Linked DNA regions of Homo sapiens: region 1 is linked to region 2. Evidence: fine-mapped expression QTL. Tissue or cell type: whole blood. Region 2 holds a variant in brackets; the other region holds the start of a gene. All regions are shown on one strand. Distances are from middle to middle.

Region 1 (8,106 bases), 110 kb after region 2:
GCAATTTTAATTTCGCCTCGGTCCTGTGGTCCTGTGATCTCACCCTGCCTCCACTTGCCTTGTGATATTCTATTACCTTGTAAAGTACTTGATGTCTGTGACCCACACCTATTTGCACACTGCCTCCCCATTTGAAAATCCCTAATACAAACTTGCTGGTTTTTGTGGCTTGTGGGGCATCACGGAACCTACCGAAATGTGATGCCTCCCCCGGATGCCCGGCTTTAAAATTTCTCTCTTTTGTACTCTGTCCCTTTATTTCTAAAGTTGGCCGACGCTTAGGGAAAATAGAAAAGAACCTACGTGAATATTGGGGCAGGTTCCCTGATACTCAGTGGCGTGGAGATGTAACAAGCCTGGATGTGTGAGTGATGATCAGGCCAACAACAGTCTGTATTTGGAAGAAATATCAGATGTGAATGTTATGACCTAGGAAGCAATGGAAGTGAAAAATTATTCTTTTTGCCTTCAGACTCAATATTTTGTATATTTGAAAATTTGTCAACACAAAAAATACTAAGTTGTATACTGATTTGTTAAAAGCAGCAGCATGCAGTTAGGATGATATCTTTGGGGAAATGGCAGAGACCATCCAACATTCTGATTCTCCACTGCATCCAATTTTCTACTCTCAAAATGAACCCCATGCTCACCATCAACGGGATTGAATTTGAGCTGCTGAGAATTGGTAATAACCCCAAATTATCTTCAATTCTGTGAAATGGAATTTTAGACCAGCCTGTGACTGAAGCCACTGGGCATTACAGTGCCTTCGCTTTGTTCAACTGCCGCATTGTTTCTCTCTGCAAGAGAGGAAGGAAGGCTGGAGTACAGCTGAGCTTTCTGGCAGGCACTGGTGGAGTTACTCATTAACCTTCCCCATTCTTTGTAACTGGTGGCCTTAGAAGAGGGTTCAGGGTTATGTGTTTGGAACACGAGTTAGTATAAATGGTTCTGAAGCACTTGATTCAGACTGTGCTTTAAAAAATAGGAAAGAAAGTAGAAAGAACAGCTGATGGTTTGGAAGGGAGCCACCAAGCACCAAGAGGTGTGAGTTCTGAATCCGTTTCTCAATCTTAGCTGCAGGGCATTGGCTAAAGAGGAAGGTGAAAACTGCTGAGTCACTATCAAATCAATTGGTTTTTCTAATCCCCTGAGAGAAAAAGTACAGAGTTTATTGCAGCTTTAAAATGCCATGCCCCTCACGGCCAAAGGCATCTGAATTAAGGAAGCAGTATTCACAGCTGCTTTCTCCAGACATTGAGCTCAAGGACAGAATCTGAACTCTGCTTTTATCAGCTGCGAAAATCCAAGCATTCATTTCCAGCTGGTTCAGTGCCTATGTAAAAGTATACTGTGTACAAAAATAAGATTAAAAAGCTAACATTAAGCAAGTGTGTTTGTATGTTTTCTACAGTTCGGATTTCTGAATAATTTGATCCGACAGAAAAATATGATTTCATTTCTTTTCGAGAGAATTATATGCATACTTTCTAAATGCAAGAATAAATTCCTGAGCTCCATGTGACTTCAGTACCATCAGCTCTTTGGCAGCTTATGAGTATACAGCTTTTTAATTCTCACCTGGTCCCCAGGATATGGTTTACTTGTCAGAGTAGTTTTATGAGGTGCTTTCTCCTGACTCTGATTCTAGGTAACACCTGATGAGATGAACAGATGGTGCACCTCACTTCCTCTTACTGGGCATGAAGGAAAGAGAGAGAAGTCAGGGTAGAGATGAAACTACTGCTACATTTTTTTTTTCTGTGGAAAAAGAGTCTAATATTTCTAATTAACCTTGATGGGAACATAGAACATAGATTGTAAAGGGAACTTGCACATTATCGCAGTAGGCTGAATAATGGCTAATGGCTCACTCTGAAAGATATGTATGGCTTAACCCCTGAAACCTGTGAGTATTATCTTTTCTAGCCAAACAGACTTTTGCATATATAATTAAGGATCTTGGGATGGGGAGATATCCTAATTATTTGGGTGTATCCTAAATGTAATCACAAGTGTCATTATAAGAGGGAGGCAAAGGGAGATTTGACTTATAAGAGGAGAAAATGTGACGTGATTACAAAAGCAGAGATACATTTTTTTGAAGATCGAGGAAGAGGCTACAAACCAAGGAATGTGGGTAGCCTCTAGAAGAGGAAACAGAATCCATGGAAAAGGCAGGAAAACACAATCTCTCATAGAGTCTCCAGAAGAAACAGCCACACTGACACCTCGACTTTAGCCCAGTGAAACCGATTTCAGACTTCTGACCTCCACAACTTCAAGATAATACATTTGTGTTGTTTTAAGCCAATAAATTTGTGGTAATTTTTTACAGCAGCAAGAGGAAATCAGTTACGTAGAATAGTAGGTCCTGTCTCTGGCTAATCATTAGAATCACTCCAGAAGCTTGTTACATACAGACCCAGAGCCAGTGAATCAAGGATTTGGTGGTGGGGCCCAGAGCCTGAATATTAAGCAAGTTCTTCGTTTTAGAAATGAGGAAACCAAGGTTGGGAGAAGCTAAGCAACTTACTCAAATACATAGGGTATTTCATTTTAAATTTAATTTTATTACTTTATCTTTTGAATTTTCTTACCCCAGTTGTACTTTTGTGTAAATGTGATTTCATTTACGGCTTTGTGTTGACATATTCATTAAAATGAAGAAATAAAAGATGAGAAACAGTTTTAAAAATTATATAATGTTTATTGATTAGAATGAATATGATGCAATCTGGTTTTCTGTGTTCAGATTCCTGACCTCTGGAGTTAACCTTTCTTTGTAAAGATTAGACAGCAGGCAGGGAAGAATGCCTTTGAAACTGAGAGCAAAGACTGGCATGCAATTTACATTGATGTCCTGGTGCTGTGCATAATAAGTTGCTTAAACATGACAGCAGGATAGGATTTTACATAAAATTTATTTATAAATGGTAAAGATGTTTCCAACCTCTGCTGAACTTCCTCATAGAATGTTCATCAGAAAACAAAGTTTCTATCTACTCTTTCTTCCAAGACTTCAACTCCTACCACTGACATCATGACCCTCAGTTCTATTCCCCTAGCCCTGCCCACTCCCCTGAAATCCAGATCCATAAATCCAACCACCGCCTGGGTATCTCAGTTTGGCTGTCCCTCCATCAACTCAAATTTGGCTGACACAGTTTTGGATTCTAGAGCATGCAGGCATTCTGTATGTGCTGTGCCTTTGCACTCACTCTTCCCTCCAGACCCCGTCCTTCCTCACTTTGCCAGTTCCAACTTCTCTCTGAAGACTCAGTTTAGGTACAGGCTCCTTTAGGAAATTTTTTTTTGACTCTACCTAGCCCAGACTCAGTTCATCTACGATATTAATCTGCAGTGTCATGCACTAGCACAAAATATTTGCTGAATGAAAGAATGAGAGTTAACTTTTAGTCAGGCATAAAGATAAAAAACCAAAGTCTTTTACTCCGGTGTGGAGTGTTTTCAGGATTCCTACCAATTAGGAAGGTGTTTGATTCTTCAAACTCAGAAACACCTCCCCTTAACTGATGGATTCTTCAAACTCAGCATCAGTTAGAGGGCATTAGGGCACTTCTCAAACCCTGCATTCAGGGAAGATGTCTGTTGTGGGGTGGTCTGGCCTACTTGGCCTGAGCCAAGGTTCTGGGCAGTTCTGTTCAGTTACACATGCATGCGTTGAGCATTGATTCAAGCCTGGCCTGGGCACTAGGCATGGTTTTAGATATTAGGGACATATTCTGTTTTCCTTGCCTTAAGATACCAGTCTAGTAGGAGCCACTAAGGCCCCTTTTTGAGCCTGGACTTCGCATTCAAACATACCCTGCTTCTAATCAAGTCATCTATTGGCAGTGACCTTGGGCAAATCATAGTCTCTCCAAGCATTACTTTTCTAATTGAAACAAGAACCTCTCTCTATACCCCAGATTTATTTTGAGGATTATGAGTTAATTCATAGCTAAAATGCTTAGCACCTAACAGCACATAACCCACACATACTTTTCAATTGCGTATTACTAAAAAGAAGGAATGATTTCCTAGAGGAGGTGCTTCTTCTGGCCAAGGGCTGATTCAGAGCCTTAATTAACTAAATAGATCAAGCATATCTAACTGGTCACCGGAAGTGGTCCATGAGGCTGCAGCAATGGGAAGGTGTCAGAGCAGGGGTTGGGAAAAAGACATAGAGAGAAACGTGCATGTCCGTAGTGGAGGGGAGCTCTTAGGATGTCTACAGATTTCCAAGACAATAATTGAAATGAACAAAGGCAAGGGATGACCAATAAGAGCTTCATTTCTTTCCTTTATCACCTTTCCCTTGTTCTTCAGCTCCAGCTGTGCCCACAGACACCACAGGGAAGCCTCTGAACACAGGGGTTTGAACCAGGGCCTCTCTAAGTCTTTTCCAACTCTGATACCCTGAAGTTCTCAGAAACTTCCATAAATTTTGGCTGAAGAAGCCATAGCAAACTTGTCAGATGGTTTCTTACCTTTAACTCAGCCATTTTCTCTCTCCTCTATGTGTGGTGACTTCAGGAAACCCAGGCCCAGAGGATATAAAGCCACAATGCTTCTTTCTCCTTCAAACCACTCTTTGGATATTCCGGTTCCCACTGCTTCACTGCGCTTCACTGGTCAGTGCGTCACTCAAACTAGCTGAAAGAATTGTCTAACTCATACACAGGGACAAAGTCCAGCAAGCTTATTTAACCGGTTACACAATTGCCTTTGGTTTTTACAGTTTGTTCCTAAGTGTTTCCAGAGGCTTGGTTCCTCTTCACCTGAGGTAGAGATTGACCAATTATTTATTCCAGTTAAAAGTAGGCTTATTTCAAAAGGCAGAGAATTTGAAGCTATCGGGGAAAGGAACTGTGGCAGATAGTGCCTGCTGTGTGTGGTGGAGGATTCTCTGCTCAGTCCTGACTCAGGCTAGGAAGGAACAGGGCAGTGCTGAGTCTCCTGGAGAGCAGTGAGAAAACCCCCAGGCATTTACCAGCTGCAGATGTGTACACTGGGGTAAGATGTTTACACACAGCCACCTGAAGACAGGGACCAGGACCAGAACCAGTTTTCTGCAGGTGCCTCCCAGGAATGAGCTCAGGTTCTTGGGTGAACCATTCAGAGCCTGAGATATTTCACTTAGAGCAAACTGATATGTTTCCTACTGCTCCTTTTAATTTCTTAAAGTACGTTTAGTTTTCTTATAAATTCTTTAAGAGTTTTGTTTCCTAATGCCTCTATACTTCTAAAACAGACCAAGGGATTATTCTCCAGCCACCTCCTCTATGACTCCCTTGTTCTTCATCTTGGCCGCTCTCCTTGGTCATTGGCAGGTAGCAGCTTCATGACTAGTGGTGTTCAGAAAGGAGAAAACATATATTGAGTTTCTGCTTTTGTCAGATTTTTCCATATCTAACTTCACAAAAACAATCTTGTAAATTAGGCATTATCACAACTCAAATGCCAACAGATGAGGGAGGAAGTGTAAGTGAATAAAGTAGGCTAGCTGATTTTTCAAGATAAGATGAAGCTCCAATTTTTAACCATTGGTAATTAGAGTGAGAGAGACAGAGAAACCACCCTGTGGTAGATGGCAAAAAATGCTCCAATTCCTCCTATCCTTGTATGTGTGCCCCTTTGAATGTGACTTTGCTGTTCCTCCCATCAAGAGGTAGGGTCTTTTTCTTTGGCTAGTAGCAAACATGACACAGAGTTTGAAACATGCCTGTGCCTTAGGACAGGGCCCATTCTTGCAGCCTGAGACCACAGTGCAGAGAAGCTGGGCTGGCCTCCAGAGGTCCAGGCAACAGCCCTGCAAGCCCCACAGGAACTGCCAGACATGTGAATGAGGCAGTCTGGCTGCCAGGTGACTGCAGAACATGTGTGATCCCAGGCAAGACCAGCAGAAGAACCACCAGTTAAATCTGGCCCGAACTGCTGAGCCACAGAATTGGGAACAAATAGAATGGTGTATTTCACACTACTAAATTTTGGGGTGGTTTGTTAAGCAGTGATAAATAACTGATATAATCATGCAGGTTGAAAAACATGTGCATATTTGAAGTGGCCACAGGCTGCTAGTTTGAGACCCTCTGCTTTAGATAAATGGGCTTAAACAACCTCCAAGGGTCCCCAGGCTCCAGCATACTGCAGTAGCAGCAGAATTATTGCCTGTGTATGAGGTGCTAGCACAGACTGGGCCAGACCAAAGGGGACATGTTGATAGGAAACATGCTGGTAGCAAACCATGTGGACTGATGCCTACGGACCGGGCAGCTGATAGGAAACCTCAGCATATGTCAGCATAGACAGATGGCATTGTGGCATTATATAAACTATTCTGGAATTCATATGCAAACCTAGGAGGAAGGTAGGTGGAGGCCCTAGCTTTATTGAGGCTAAGTTTTCACTATTCCTATAACATGCAGACTCTGAAACTGAATTCGAAGAAAATATCTCCTGTGTATCTAAGTTTATGAGTACCTTGGGCCTTCAATCTCTATTGATCTTGGAAGTTAGCAGTTGGTCATTAGATAAACAAATGGGAGCTAATAAAAGACAAAGGGAAATCTTTACTGCCTTATTTTTCAACAAACTTTCTATGTTACTTCCATTGAACCAGTTGTGAAGGCAGATTTAAGAAGTGTTTCAGTTCTTTCCTAAGGTATGAGAGACTTCTGAAGGGGTAAGAAAGTGTTAACAGTTCCTTGACTGGATTAAAATTACTTTGAGGGGCTTGAAAATATTTAAAGTTGAATACATCTTTCACTAAACTTTAGGGATTCCTTCTAAAAGGAGAGAATACACACAGGGGATATTAAAATATTATTTTATTATTTAATTTTTTTTTTGAGACAGGTTCTCTGTCATCCAGGCTGGAGTGCAGTGGCACAAAAATGGCTCACTGAAGCCTCAACCTCCTGGGCTAAAGCGATCCTCCCATCTCAGCCTCCTGAGTAGCTGGGACTACAGGCACACACCACCACACCCGGCTACTTTAAAAATTTTTTAGTAGAGATGAGGTCTCGTCATGTTGCCCAGGCTGAACTTGAACTCCTAGGCTCAAGCAATCCTCCCACTTCAGCCTCCCAAAGTGCTGGGATTACAGACGTGAACTCCTGCACCTGACTTAATGTTTTTTTTTAGAGACAGAGTCTTGCTGTGTCATCCAAGCTGGAGTGCAGTGGCATCATCACAGCTCACTGCAGCCTTTAACTCCCAGGCATAAGCCATCCTCTGGCCTCAGCCTCCCAAAGTATTGGAATTACAGGCATAAGCCATCATGTCCTGCTGGGATTGGAGAATAAATAACTTACACAGCTACAGATAAGTTCTGATTCTATGTCTAATGGCTTTCCATTTTAATTAATGTAATTATACATTCATTTATTTAACAATTTTTGAAAACCATCACAACATAGTGTAAGTGCTCTGACAGGAAAGAGCCCAGGGATCTAGGGGAAGCACTAGTGGGCACGTAGCCCAGACGAGCAGAGCCAGGGAGGGCTTCCCAGAGAAGACTATGTCTGAGCCAAGTCCCATAGAGTAAGAGTTGGATAGAAAGTGGAAAACATTACATCCAGGAATTGCTACAAGGTAATGTGAAGCAGGGTGTGACAGGTCTACAGAGTAATCACTCCAAAACGGAGTTAGGCATCAGAGGACTCCAGGACAGATGTCTCCGAGAAAAAGATGGAACGGAGAGATTACCTGATATACTTGATGGTACTGAGCGAGGTTTTACACCTTGGTTGGAGTTTAGGGGTTCCATTCTTTGTCATTAGTTATTGATGACCTCGGTAAAGCTTAGTGATTAGCCAGCTGAGAAAACACAGTACTAGAGAGGGGGCTGTGTGTAAGATGGCAAGGCACTGGTTAGAAATAAATATATTTGGATTAAAAACAGAACCCAGGGGAAAAACAGTGGCAGTAATAAAAATGATAGCAATACATGAAAGACAAATACTTGTTTTGCCAACAGAAGACATGACAATCATCTCATGTTTAATTTGGCATATGTAGCTTTGAGTGGGGAGGAGTGGATCAGTTCATTAAGGTGAGATCAGGTTGAGGCAGTCAAAGATGCGCTTTGATGAATTC
Region 2 (8,106 bases):
GTATTAATTGCACTACTAGGCCCTTGGCCTTGGACACAGAGACTTCTGCTGCATGTTAATTAGGCACAGCACCAGCTGACCCTGCTCACTGGGAAGTTCTATGTCAGAGTTCTGTTGCATACTGACCTTTAATAGCCTTAATGATTTAATCATTTTATAGATTGAAAACACTGAGGTCCAGAGACGTTGTGACTTGTCTGAGTTCTCACAAACGATAAACGGAGGCAAGAGTCTGAAATGCTTCGTGCTCCAGCGCCTGAGAGCTCTGGTTTGGCCCCTTCATCTGCCGTGCATTTCACCTTCCTTTCTTATTGTGCCAATATAGTAAAAATAATTTTTTTTCTAACACTAAGCTATTATTTTAAGTTTCTGTTTTCTAACAGGTACAAACTGGTTAGACTCGTCCTGGCTTAAGTGACCGTTAATTTAGTAAATCTCCTTGGATTTTGTGACTGTTACGCTAAAAGCCTTAAAAATAAATGTAGTAAGAAGCTGCCCTTGGGTCCAGCAGAGAAGAAGATAAAATTGGATCCTTTTCAAAGCCAGTGTTTACACTCAGATGCCTCTGGCTTTCTCATTTACTTTAATAAGCTATTTCACGAGGTAACTTTATCTTTACAGATACTTTTTTTTTTCTGAAGGAGAGATGGTTTTTAGCAGAGAGCAAGGAACTTAAAATCAAGAGGTTTGCGCTCTAGTCCCAATTCTGCTCAGTAACCCTAGACCAGTCACCTGCCCTCTGTGAGCCTAAGACTGGATGAGGGGTTTCTAAGCTGTGGTCAGTGGGGCCTCAGGATTTCCATGACGTATTTCTGGGCTACTGCTGGAGACCTACAGTGAAGGCTCAGAGGCTGCCGTCCCAGAACCACACTGCCCCCTTGTCTCCCTCCCTCCCCTACTCAGAGCAGCTCTCCTTTTATTTGTTTTAAAGGGGAGAGTCTGCATAAGATTTTATTTAAAAGAAAAGTTCTGCTGTTGTTAGTATATAAAAATCACCAGAACAGTTAGATGATCTGAAAGATCTTTTCCAGCTCTAACATTCTGGGGTGTCTGAGTTTAAAGATCGGCTCTTGCTTTACTTTTTTAGCTACCTCTTTGCTCCACGGACATGCAAACCAATCATCTCTAAATTATAAATATTCTCTCTGCTGCCCCCAGCTGACTGCTAGCTATGTATTATGCTGGCTGTAAAGATCCTGGAAATGAGCTTGTCTGCTACTCCTGCCCTAATAGTGTTGTGACCAGCAGGGAAGAACATTTGTAGCAGTACTTATTTGCTGATCAGGGATTTTATTTTTTTTTTAAGCTTGCATTTGCTTTAACCGCTTAGGAAAAACAGTTCCAGAACTATCCCCAGCCCTGACCAGCACAGCAGCATCCTCATTCGTATGCTGCTGCTTTGTCTGGCAAAAGGCATTCTACCATGCCATTCCTAACCGCTCCCCACTGTGGTAAGCAGCTATTCGGATTGGATCCCACATCCTCTCTTGGATATTTTGTTTTTCAGGCTGTCTGTCTTACTGCATGCTCCCAAAGTTTCCTCTGAAAGCTAGTGATCTTTGGCTGCCACTGCAGTCCGGCCAGGCCTGAGCCAGGCTGTGCCTGCCCAGCCCTACCTAGAGCACCACAGACCTTTCTGGTGCTGATTTATTTCACACGCACTGTGCCTGCTTTGCCCAGAGTAGAGCAAGACCAATTTTTCCTTTACAAATACATGATTTAAACTTTCATCAAAAATTAACTGGTGCTAAAAGCAGACAAAGACAAATCAGCATTTTCTACTCACTACATGTCAGTAAGGTTCAAGAATTTGCTGCTAGATGTGTAAATCAGGATATAGGATGGGAGAAGCAAACACTGATCACACTCTGAGTGTTCCTTACCTCCCTTCATCCTTATAATAACCCTCCTAGGTAGATATTCTCATCTCCATTTGTTAGAGGAAGAAACAGGCTGGGGGAGGTAGAATAACTTGTGTAGACACACAGTTAGGAAGTGGCAGATGCAGGAATTGAACTTGTTCTATCTGGCACCAAATGCCTTGTTCTTTCCACGACACCATGCTGCCTTCTTGATGAGCATGCTGACTCATTTGGGAAGTTATGTAAGCTTGCAAATCACATTGAGATTCCCAGATAATGTGACTGCATAAAGAAGAACAAGGTGCTGCCACGAGTGGCTTTGGTGCAGTGACAGAAACACAGGGGAGAGGCTCTGCACTGTCGAGAAGGGGTCAGCAAAGCTGTTGAGAGGAGATGGGCTGCACCAGTGGGCCCCAAACCACAGGCAATCATTTATCTCTTCCCTTCCCAACCTGTTCTGCAAATAAACAGATTTTAATTATAAATATATGAATAAAGCTATCTATCCATTTAATTCACGTTACTGAAAATCCAGTCCAAGCTTTGACCACCTGCAGAAGGTATGCCAAAGGTGCCCAGGGTCAGATGGCTTGGCACCACTCCAGTCACCTGCATCAGGTGAAATAAGCAAGGTAGGTCTTTAGCATCATCCACATATGCTTTTATTGACTAGAGGAGTGTCATAATCAGATTTGCACCTCGGGAAGTTATCCCAGGCCTCTGTCGGGAAAGGGAGAAGGGAGGCAATGCAGCGGTGCTGTCAGTGCCCCGCCCACGTCCAATTAGTATGCACCCCACACCCCCAAGGCCTGTGACCCTCTGTGCTCTGGCTTGGCAGCATGCATAGCCCATACACAGTGCAGGAGTGCAGGCCAGATGTGCTGGGGGGTTGATGTCCCTGAGATCAGCCCTCAAACAATGAGGAACAGGAGAGTTGATGGGTAAACACCCCAGCTTCCTTGCCTGTTGGTTGGGATAACTCTTAAGTCGTATTCTACTCTGTGTCTCAGAGTTTCTCAGTGAGGTGGAGCTCCAGTGGAGTTTCTCAGTGGCATGGAGCTCGGCAGTGCTTAGTAACACATCCTTTATTGGCTTCTTTCACTTCCCTGTCCTGCTCCCTGAATCAGCTCCCAGGGATTCCTGAGATCACCTCTCAAATGAACTATTTATAGTAGAATCCATGTTTCAGGTTTCGTTTCCAGAGGAAGCCAGATAAAGACCATTCAGAAGCCGGTGTGGTGGCTCATTCCTGTAATCCCAGCACTTTAGAAGGCTGAGGTGGGTGGATCACTTGAGGCCACGAGTTGAAAACCAGCCCGGCCAACATGATAAAAGCCTCATTTAAAAAAGAAAAAAAAACACCATTCAGTACTTTGTGCCGAGATGGATAATGTGCACTAGACAAAGGGAACAGAAGTAGGAATGGAGAAGAGGGGGTTGCTATGAGAAATATTCACTCTGAGATTTAGAACTTCAAAATAAGAAACTCCTACATTTAATAGCAGTAATTAAAAAAAAACTAACCCCTAATTTTAAAAATAGGCTAAGGACTGGAATAGACATTTCTCCAAAGAAGACATACAAATAGCCAGCAGGTATAAGAAAATGTTCAACATCACCAATCATCAGAAAAACGCAAATCAAAACCGTAATGAGATACCACCTCACACCTGCTAGGATGGTTGTTATATATATAAAGATAACAAGTGGTGGTGAGGATGTGGAGGAAATTGGAACCCTCATATGCTGTTGGTAGGAATGCAAAATGGTGCAGCCACTATGGAAAACAGTGTGAAGTTCCTAAGAAAATTAAAAATAGAACTACCATATGATCCAGCAATCCCACTTCTGGATATTTATCCAAAAGAATTGAAATTAGGATCCCAAAATGATATTAGTATACCCATGTTCACTGCAGCACTATTCACAATAGCCAAGATGTGAAAACAACTTAAATGTCCATCAACAGATTAATGGATAAAAAGAAAATGTGGTACATACATACAACGGAATATTATTCAGCCTTAAAAAGGAAATTTGGCAATGTGTAACAATACAGATGAACCTTAAGGACATTACACTAAGTGAAATAAGCCAGTCACTGAAAGGCAAATATTGCATGACTCCACTTATATGAAATATCTAAGATGAAGTATCTATGATTCAAATTAATAGAATCATAGAATGGTGGTAGCCAGGGCTGGGAAGAAGAGGAAATGGGGAATCACTAACAATGAGCATTGTGTCTCAGTCAAGCAAAATAAATAAGCTCTGGGGAGCTGTTGTACAACCTTGTACCTATAGTCAACAATAATGTATTGTACACTTAATATTTTGTTAAGAAGGTAGATCTCGTGTTAAATGTTATCACGATTTTAAAAAACTGGTTAAATGGAGGGGTAAGAGAGAAAGGAGGGAGAGAAAAGACTCTACAAGAATTCTGAGTCTCTGGCTTAAGCTCCTGGGTGGATACTGATGCCTTACACTGAACTAGAGAATACATTTCAGGGGTAAGAAAGTAAATCCAATTTTGGATATGTAGGAGAAAGTGACATCTGGCTCTGTGATGTCATTTGCAAAAATGAAAGTGCCCCCTTTGCCAAAAGCATCTTCCCAAACCTCTTACCATAGGGCTTGAAATTCTCTATTACTCACTTATTTGGCTTGCTTTTTCCAGAACACTATTTTTAAAATGCTCCTGAGATTATTGATACTTTTGTTACGTGTGATAATAGCATTGTGGTTATGTAGAAAAAAACCTCCTTAACTGTTAGAAATACA[T/G]GCCAAAGTATTTAATGGATAATATAAAACACTGTGAGGGACTGCTTTCAAATAATCCAGCAAAAAGAAAAATGAAGGGTATATCTAGGGGGATGGATAAAACAACATGGAAAAATATTTAAAATGATAAAAGCTGGAGAATGAATACAGTGGGTCCATTATACCATTTCCTCTACTTTTGTGTGTGGGAAGTTTCCATAACAAAAAAAAAAAGAAGTTACCCTGGTATTTTTAAGATGCTCTTGGCAGGATATCTTATCCAATTGTCTTTAACACCTGTGAAAGAACAACCACAAAAGTGTGTTTTGAAACTTTGGTTGGATTTCATATATTTAGAATATTTAGAAGAAAAGGAGGCTGGTTCTTTCAAAAAATAGACTTGTGAGGAGCTGGATTTTAAAAGAGAGAAGAAACCAAGATTCAGATGTAGAATTTCATATGTTTTTGCCAACCATGTGATTCCTTCCACCATTTTCCAGAGCATAAGAAGGCATCTCATGACCCTCCATCATGCCTTACCACGATGGTCCCACATCAGGGCCTTTGTGTGCATGCTGTCATTTTATCTCCAAAACGCTCTCTAGGCACCCATTTCAAAGATGAAGGAACTCAGGCTGGAGAGGTCAGGTTTTCTGCCTATAGACCATAGAGTAATCAATTCCAGGGGCATTGGGAGAAGGGCCCAGGTTTGACGTTCCATGTATCTGACTCCAAAGTCTGGTATATTCCACAGCCTTCAGTCTAGTTTGCTGTGGTTGACCTTAGGTCACCTTGCCATTCCAAGAAGTGGTCATTCACAAACTGGCTTCAGCAGAATTGACTTTCTGGGAATCAGCCTGCTTCTGCTGAGGACAAGCTTAAACCAACAAAAATCAACAGCATGCCTCCTTGGGCAGGGACAATAGGGTGATAGAGTTCATAGACTAAGTGAGAACTGTCAGGAAAGCATTGTGTCCGTTTCCTCCAAAGCCTTGAGGCATTGGCAGGGTTTGACAGGAAGGGTGGAGGTGGGCACAACACCTAGAAGAGCAACTGGGTGAAAAGCAAAGATAAATGGAACTGTAAAAAAGCATATAATTCCATAAGCAAACATAAAATGCTTTAAAAAGTGGTGTTTCCTTATCTAAGTACTTACTGATGCTTTTTAGAAAACCAATCTTAAGGCTGGGGCCGGCGGCTCATGCCTGTAATCCCAGCGCTTTGGGAGGTCAAGGCGGGTGGATCACCTGAGGTGAGGAGTTCAAGACAAGCCTGACCAACATGGCAAAACCCCGTCTCTACTAAAAATATAAAAATTAGACGGGTGTGGTGACGGGTGCCTGTAATCCCAGCTACTTGGGAGGCTGAGGCAGGAGAGTCACTTGAACCCAGGAGGCAGAGGTTGCAGTGACCCAAGATTGCACCACTGGACTCCAGCCTGGGTGACAGAGGGAGATGCTGTCTCAAAAAAAAAAAAAAAACCAACCTTAAAGTCAAGCAAAGGAGATAACTAAGTAAATTATAATTATTTCCTACTGTTGGAGTATTACATGTCCATAGTTTATGGATGTTATTATCCATAATAAAGATTATGGAAAACTGTTTATTTAAAAAATTTAACTGAAAAAGCAGAATATAGAATACATATAGGATAAGGGCAGTCAAGATGGCCGAATAGGAACAGCTCCGGTCCATAGCTCCCAGCATGAGCGACGCAGAAGACGGGTGATTTCTGCATTTCCATCTGAGGTACCGTGTTCATCTCACAAGGGAGTGCCAGACAGTGGGCGCGGGACAGTGGGTGCAGCACACCGTGCACAAGCCGAAGCAGGGTGAGGCATTGCCTCACTTGGGAAGCACAAGGGGTCAGGGAGTTCCCTTTCCTAGTCAAAGAAAGGGGTGACAGACGGCACCTGGAAAATCGGGTCACTCCCACCCGAATACTGTGCTTTTCCAACGGGCTTAAAAAACGGCACACCAGGAGATTATATCCCGCACATGGCTCGGAGGGTCCTACGCCCACAGAGTCTCACTGATTGCTGGCACAGCAGTCTGAGATCAAACTGCAAGGTGGCAGCGAGGCTGGGGAAGGGGCGGCCGCCATTGCCCAGGCTTGCTTAGGTAAACAAAGCAGCCGGGAAGCTCCAACTGGGTGGAGCCCACCACAGCTCAAGGAGGCCTGCCTGCCTCTGTAGGCTCCACCTCTGGGGGCAGGGCACAGACAAACAAAAAGACAGCAGTAACCTCCTCAGACTTAAATGTCCCTGTCTGACAGCTTTGAAGAAAGCAGTGGTTCTCCCAGCACACAGCTGGAGATCTGAGAATGGGCAGACTGCCTCCTCAAGTGGGTCCCTGACCCCTGACCCCCGAGCAGTGTAACTGGGAGGGACCCCCCAGTAGGGGCAGACTGACACCTCACACGGCTGGGTACTCCTCTGAGACAAAACTTCCAGAGGAACGATCAGACAGCAGCATTCGCGGTTCATGAAAATCCGCTGTTCTGCAGCCACCGCTGCTGTTACCCAGGCAACCAGGGTCTGGAGTGGACCTCTAGCAAACTCCAACAGAGCTGCAGCTGAGGGTCCTGTGTGTTAGAAGGAAAACTAACAAACAGAAAGGACATCCACACCAAAAACCCATCTGTACATCACCATCATCAAAGACCAAAAGTAGATAAAAACCACAAAGATGGGGAAAAAACAGAGCAGAAAAACTGGAAACTCTAAAAAGCAGAGTGCCTCTCCTCCTCCAAAGGAATGCAACTCCTCACCAGCAACGGAACACAGCTGGATGGAGAATGACTTTGACAAGTTGAGAGAAGAAGGCTTCAGATGATCAAACTACTCTGAGCTACAGGAGGAAATTCAAACCAAAGGCAAAGAAGTTAAAAACTTTGAAAAAAATTTAGACCAATGTATAACGAGAATAACCAATACAGAGAAGTGCTTAAAGGAGCTGATGGAGCTGAAAGCCAAGGCTCGAGAACTACGTGAAGAATGCAGAAGCCTCAGGAGCCGACGCGATCAACTGGAAGAAAGGGTATCAGTGATGGAAGCTGAAATGAATGAAATGAAGCGAGAAGGGAAGTTTAGAGAAAAAAGAATAAAAAGAAATGAACAAAGCCTACAAGAAATATGGGATTATGTGAAAAGACCAAATCTACGTCTGATTGGTGTACCTGAAAGTGATGGGGAGAATGGAAACAAGTTGGAAAACACTCTGCAGGATATTATCCAGGAGAACTTCCCCAATCTAGCAAGGCAGGCCAACATTCAGATTCAGGAAATACAGAGAACGCCACAAAGATACTCCTCGAGAAGAGCAACTCCAAGACACATAATTGTCAGATTCACCAAAGTTGAAATGAAGGAAAAAATGTTAAGGGCAGCCAGAGAGAAAGGTCAGGTTACCCACAAAGGGAAGCCCATCAGACTAACAGTGGATCTCTCAGCAGAAACTCTACAAGCCAGAAGAGAGTGGGGGC

What was found. PIP is the estimated chance that this variant, and not a neighbour inherited with it, causes the effect.
Region 1: HGD starts here. The variant in region 2 is fine-mapped to the expression of HGD in whole blood (INTERVAL, PIP above 0.99).

The regions. Positions count from the first base shown.
Region 1 is chr3:120,677,601-120,685,706 of GRCh38, forward strand. It overlaps HGD (homogentisate 1,2-dioxygenase), which reads right to left and starts at 4,639. Exons shown (of 14, transcript NM_000187.4): 1 at 4,497-4,639. The coding sequence starts at 4,511. RABL3 (RAB, member of RAS oncogene family like 3) reads right to left here. Exons shown (of 8, transcript NM_173825.5): 8 at 7,338-8,106. RefSeq lists an enhancer at 1-357.
Region 2 is chr3:120,566,741-120,574,846 of GRCh38, forward strand. No RefSeq gene overlaps it. Among named protein-coding and RNA genes, the nearest start is that of NDUFB4, 26 kb to the right of the region's middle. RefSeq lists a cis regulatory region at 5,378-5,598. The variant T/G (reference allele first, on the strand shown) is at 4,644.